Linked DNA regions of Homo sapiens: region 2 is linked to region 1. A link means that fine-mapping ties the variant in region 1 to the expression of a gene that starts in the linked region. Tissue or cell type: whole blood. Region 1 holds a variant in brackets; the other region holds the start of a gene. All regions are shown on one strand. Distances are from middle to middle.

Region 1 (2,756 bases):
GTCAGGCTGGTCTCGATGGTCTCGAACTCCTCACCTCAGGTGATCCACCCGCCTCAGCCTCCCAAAGTGCTGCGATTACAGGCATGAGCCACCACGCCCACCCAACTGGCCATTATTAAGCAACTGGAAACCTGGGCTGGTCTCAGGCAAAACAGTGCAATAGCGTGAGTGTTTTCGATTACCTGTTTCCACATTCAACTCTTTAACCCTGTGACTCCCCACTATGTGCCAGGTCCAGGCTGGTGCTGGGAATACTTTAGTGAGTAAGGTAAATTTGGTCTCTTCCCTCACATAATATTGGCAACAATTTTGAGGTCTGACAGTTTCAAATTTGGAGAGGATGTGGAGCAACAGGAACAGTGTAGCAGTAGCTGGTAAATGGGAGGCTCACATACAGTTCTCCTCCCAGGCTTTCTACTCAGACATGTGCCTAAGGAGACAGGAACACAGCAGAATGTGCACATGAAACTGCAAACAATCCAAATGTCCATCAACGAGTAATGCACAAATATATATGGCAGAGCCGTACAAAGGAATGTTATGCAGTAGTAAAGACGAAGCCAAAAAAGCTGGATGTGTGAATATGGATGAATCTCACAGTTAGTATATTGAAGTCCCTTCCTTCCCAAAGTGAGTTTCAGAGCCCATAAATATAATACCATTTATGTGAAGCTTGAAAACATGCGAAGCACTACCATACAGTATGTTGTTTAGAGATACATACATGTAGAGAACCGCATGCGCATGTTAAACACCAGATTCAGGAAATTAGTCACTTGGCAGTGGGGAAGGCAGTGTGTTCCAGGAAAAGGGATGAGGTTAGTGGAGGGTACGCAGAGGCTTCTGCTGTGTTGAACTTCTTAAGCAGGGTGATGGGTCGGGGAGTGTTCATTACACCATTGTATAGGTCTTACATATTTCATAATATACTAAAAATATATAAAATATCATGGGATTATGGCTATGAGAAGGAGAGCAAAGAGAGCTAAGGGCACCCATAGCAGAAGCAGATAGAATCAAGGAAGACTTTTTAGATTAAGTGACATTTAAGACACAGTAGGAGTTAAACTGAGAGAGAGAGGAGGAAGTTCATTCCAGGAAGAGGGAAGAGGATGTCAGGAGGCCCAGAGGTAAGAGAAAGCTTGGCAGAGGAATTGAAAGAAATGTCATAGAGTTGAAGTATATAGAGTGCATCAGGAATTT[G/A]TACCCTATCCTAAGGGCCACAGGGAGTCAGTCCCAGGGGTTTTAATTTGAAGCAAGGGAGTGCCATGGTCAGACGTCTATTCTGGAGGATCTGTCCGCTGGGCTGCAGCATGCAGAGGGCTTGGAGGATGTGGGACTGGCTTCAGGGAGACAAGTTTGGGGGCTGGTTCATAGATGGTGTGGTGGTGAGTGTAGGGAGAGCCCGTGGACAGGGTGGATAGAGTGAACACGTATTTAGGAGATAAAACAGACATGACCAGGTTGGCTGTCTCCAGGGTTCTCCGGCCCTCCTTGTTTCCATAAAAACCATTTACATGCAGCATCTTATAGTAGACATTTCTGGAAAAACAGGTAGACTAGACTGGGTGGATGTCTGAGTTCTGAAGAATATCTGTGTCTACTGAGTTATTTGACAGCTTTAGAGTTTGGCAGACCTGATTTCAGCCCTGCCACTCGCTGCTTCGTAATACTGGGCTTGGCACTCTCCAAGCCCCAGTTTCATCATCTCTTAAACAGAAAAAACATTTCCTCTTATTGATGAAAATAAATCATGAATATAAAGCACGTAGTTCAATTCCTGGAAGGTAGTAAGCAACCAATAAATGTTACCCCTCCCTGACTAGGCGCAGTGGCTCATGCCTGTAATCCCAGCCCTTTTTGAGGCCGAGGTGGGTGGATCACTTGAGGTCAGGAGTTCGAGACCAGGCTGGCCAACATGGTGAAAACCTGTCTCTACTAAAAAAAAATACAGAAATTAGCTGGGTGTGGTGGTGCATGCCTGTAATCCTAGCTACTCGGGAGGCTGAGACAGGAGAATTGCTTGAACCCGGGAGGCAGAGGTTGTGGTGAGCCGAGGCCACGCCACTGCACTCCAGCCTGGGAGACAGAGCGAGACTCTGCCTCAAAAAAAAAAAGATGTTAGCCCTCCCCAACTTCACCTGCCACCCGTATCCCAGGTAGCTCTGCACAATGTGGAGGCATGCCTGCTTGTTTTCCTCACCTGTCTGCCTTCCTCTTCTTAGCTGTACTCCAGGTCCTTGACCTACCTGAGAGCTTCTTTTGTCTTTCTTCACTGAGCATTTTCAGGTCCAAGTTTCAGTTTGTGAATCACAAGCCTGAAAATTCCCAAAGACCCAGCAGAACATGAGACCTGCACATGGCACAAAGCCTGGTGGGCTGTGCTCCTGCCTGTGAACCTGGTTCCTGTTCCTTCACAGGTCCAAGTGGGTTCCCCGGGGCGACTACATCGCCTCCAACACGGACGAATGCACAGCCACACTGATGTACGCCGTCAACCTGAAGCAATCTGGCACCGTTAACTTCGAATACTACTATCCAGACTCCAGCATCATCTTTGAGTTTTTCGTAAGCCCCTGGCCAAGGTGGAGGGTGGGAGCTAAAAAGCCTCTCTGGGGTTCAGATCCGTTTGAGGAATCCATCATGAGTGTAGCCCTGCTTGGGGGAATCACTGTTGTTTTCTCTCTGGAGAGAGCTGTGGGCAAAATGAGCTGAGGCCCAGGAGGCAAGAAGAAAAGGCAAAAGTGAAAGGACTA
Region 2 (2,628 bases), 43 kb after region 1:
ACATTTCTGTGACCAGATGCAGTGGTGAGGGGCCCTGGGGGGTAAGTTCCTCAGACACCAAGCGATTCTCCAGTGGACATTGGCTAAGCATTCTATAATTCAATTCGATTCTGATTCTGACACTAGCTACCTGGAGGTAGTGTCAGATTCCATGGGGTAAGGGCTTGATCCCACTAGACTGCTCCTCTTCAGATGCCAATTGCAAGTAGTAGATTTCACCTATACTTCTTAGCAGCTATAAACTGGGGCTCCCACTACCCCCTCCTTTGGTCTGATTAATTTGCTGAGAAGGCTCACAGACCTCAAGGAAACATTTACCAGTTTATTATAAAGGATAGTACAAAGGGTACAAATGAACAGCCAGATGAAGAGATGGATAGGGCAAGGTGTCAGGGGTGCAGAGCTTCCATAACCTTTCTGGGCAAGACACCCTCCTGGCATCTCCACATGTTCAACAACCCTGAAGCTCATCAACTCTTGTTGTTCGAGCGTTTATAGAGTTTGATGTCCAGCTCCTCCCCTCCCCCTTTCCTGGAGGTTGAAGGGTGGGGATGAAAGTTCCAATCCTCCAATCACTTGGTCTCTCTGGTGACTGGCCCCATCCTAAGGTTATCTAGGGCCCCCATCCTAAATCACCTCCTTATTATAAACTCAGGTGTTATCAAAGAGACCCATTACGTATAACCCAGGAAATTCAAGGGTTTTAGGGGCTGTGTCAGGAACCAGGGACAAAGCCCAAATATATTTCATATTATAAATAAATAATATGATAGTTAGCTATGTCACACCCTCATCTCAGGAGTCCATGACGGCGGTATAAGATCAAGAAGGTCTTAGCACATCTAGCTTCGAGAAGGCATTGGAAGTGAGGCTTTAAAGTTTCTGCAGAGTGGAAGGATTGGGGGTGGGGGTGGGGGAGGAGATCACCTGTTCCCAAATCCTTCAAATAATCTCTTGTTATCAGGGAGATTCTTTGATAACTTTGGCTTCACTCGGCAACTAGAATATTTCATTTAAAGGTCTGAACATTATAAAATCAAAGTATGATACAAACCGTTCTTCAAGACGCTTTCAAATTGACCCAAGACATGACCTCAACACCTTATACGGCGTTCAAATCTGCTTAATGTCCCTTTGGAAAAGTTTTCTCTCGTCTCTCTCTAAAAGACAACCGCACTTTCCCAAAGCTGTGCTCTTAAGAGTTGGTAAAGTGACAATTTGGTTTATCCAATAATCAGATTAATAAAGGTATACCATTTCTAAGGCACGAGAGCAGGAATCTTAAGCTGAGGTAGCCCTGGGACTAAATATGCCATCCTCTTGTATCAAGATGGAGAAGACGGCCGAGGTTCAGGGAAAGAGCCCAGTGGAAGAACCCAACCTAGTGAGAGGAAAACGGGCACCTGGTGAAGGCCCCGGCCTCTAAGCTAGGGATGAGGGGACAGGCCTCTGCCTAGCCTGAGACAGGAGTAGGAAACTGAGGCATTCACACTTTTATGTGGCGATCACAGTTCCTGCAGACTGTAGCAGAGCTGGGGAGCAGGAACCAGAGGTATAGTCCCACGCCCACCCACTCTCCCCTCCCCTCCCTCCGCGGCCCCGCCTCCAACCAGCCGCTTCCGGTCGCGGGGAGGGTCGCCTGCGGGCTCCAGCTGCGCCTGCGCAGGAAGGGCGGGTCAGCGCGCCGGCGCAGTGCGGCGGTCACAGGCTGAGTGCTGCGGCGCGATCCTTGCTTCCCTGAGCGTTGGCCCGGGAGGAAAGAAGATGGTGCTGGATCTGGATTTGTTTCGGGTGGATAAAGGAGGGGACCCAGCCCTCATCCGAGAGACGCAGGAGAAGCGCTTCAAGGACCCGGGACTAGTGGACCAGCTGGTGAAGGCAGACAGCGAGTGGCGACGATGTAAGTACCGGGACGGGCGGGTTACCTCCTTGATGCTAAACCCAATTTTCTCTCTCAAATCCAGCCACCGCTCCTGAGGCCACAGCTTCCACCCTTCGTCAGACCCCCTCCCAGGGTGCGGTGGCTCCGAGGTTCTCCCCATCCCCGAAAACACAGCCTGGTCGCCGGGGTCATCCCACTTTCTCCTCCACCCGGGCGGAGCGAGGTCCCTTCCACGCGTGCTCAGTGCCGTTCGCTGCCAGTGTGCGTACGCACGCGCATCGGGAGCTGTCAAGCCTTCCTGCCCCAGGGGTTGCCAGAACATGCCGGGGCGGGAGGTTGTGGGGTCTACGCGGCTTTCCTAACACGAATCTTTGGTCCCCCCCAGTCTTTTTCTCATCTTCAGCAAGGCCAGAGTGGTTTTCCTTTGTTTTGATAGGATCAAAGGCTTCTCCTGAGACTGCGTCACTTCTGCAACACAGTAGATTCATTCCTTCGGTATCGGAAGCATTTCGGGGCGTTGGAGGCCGCTCTTGGCCAAAATAAATGACCCTGAAGCTTTTCGGAAGGCCATCCCCCGACCTATGGGCATACCTTTAAGAATTAGAAAAGTCTTTTCCGTGGTAGATCAAACGCGAGGGGAGTGAGGAGGCGAGCAAAAGATTGTAATGACTGAAGCTGTTTAATTGTGATTTGTGGACGTTTTCCTTTAAAGACATTGGCAGAGTTGGGCTAGAACCTGGAACTGC

The links. PIP is the estimated chance that this variant, and not a neighbour inherited with it, causes the effect.
Region 2: SARS1 starts here. The variant in region 1 is fine-mapped to the expression of SARS1 in whole blood (INTERVAL, PIP 0.95).

What each region holds. Positions count from the first base shown.
Region 1 is chr1:109,169,446-109,172,201 of GRCh38, forward strand. It overlaps ELAPOR1 (endosome-lysosome associated apoptosis and autophagy regulator 1), which reads left to right. Exons shown (of 22, transcript NM_020775.5): 4 at 2,421-2,568. Among named protein-coding and RNA genes, the nearest start is that of SARS1, 43 kb to the right of the region's middle. The variant G/A (reference allele first, on the strand shown) is at 1,204.
Region 2 is chr1:109,212,229-109,214,856 of GRCh38, forward strand. It overlaps SARS1 (seryl-tRNA synthetase 1), which reads left to right and starts at 1,690. Exons shown (of 11, transcript NM_006513.4): 1 at 1,690-1,900. The coding sequence starts at 1,765. RefSeq lists a silencer at 1,484-1,703 and an enhancer at 1,754-2,113.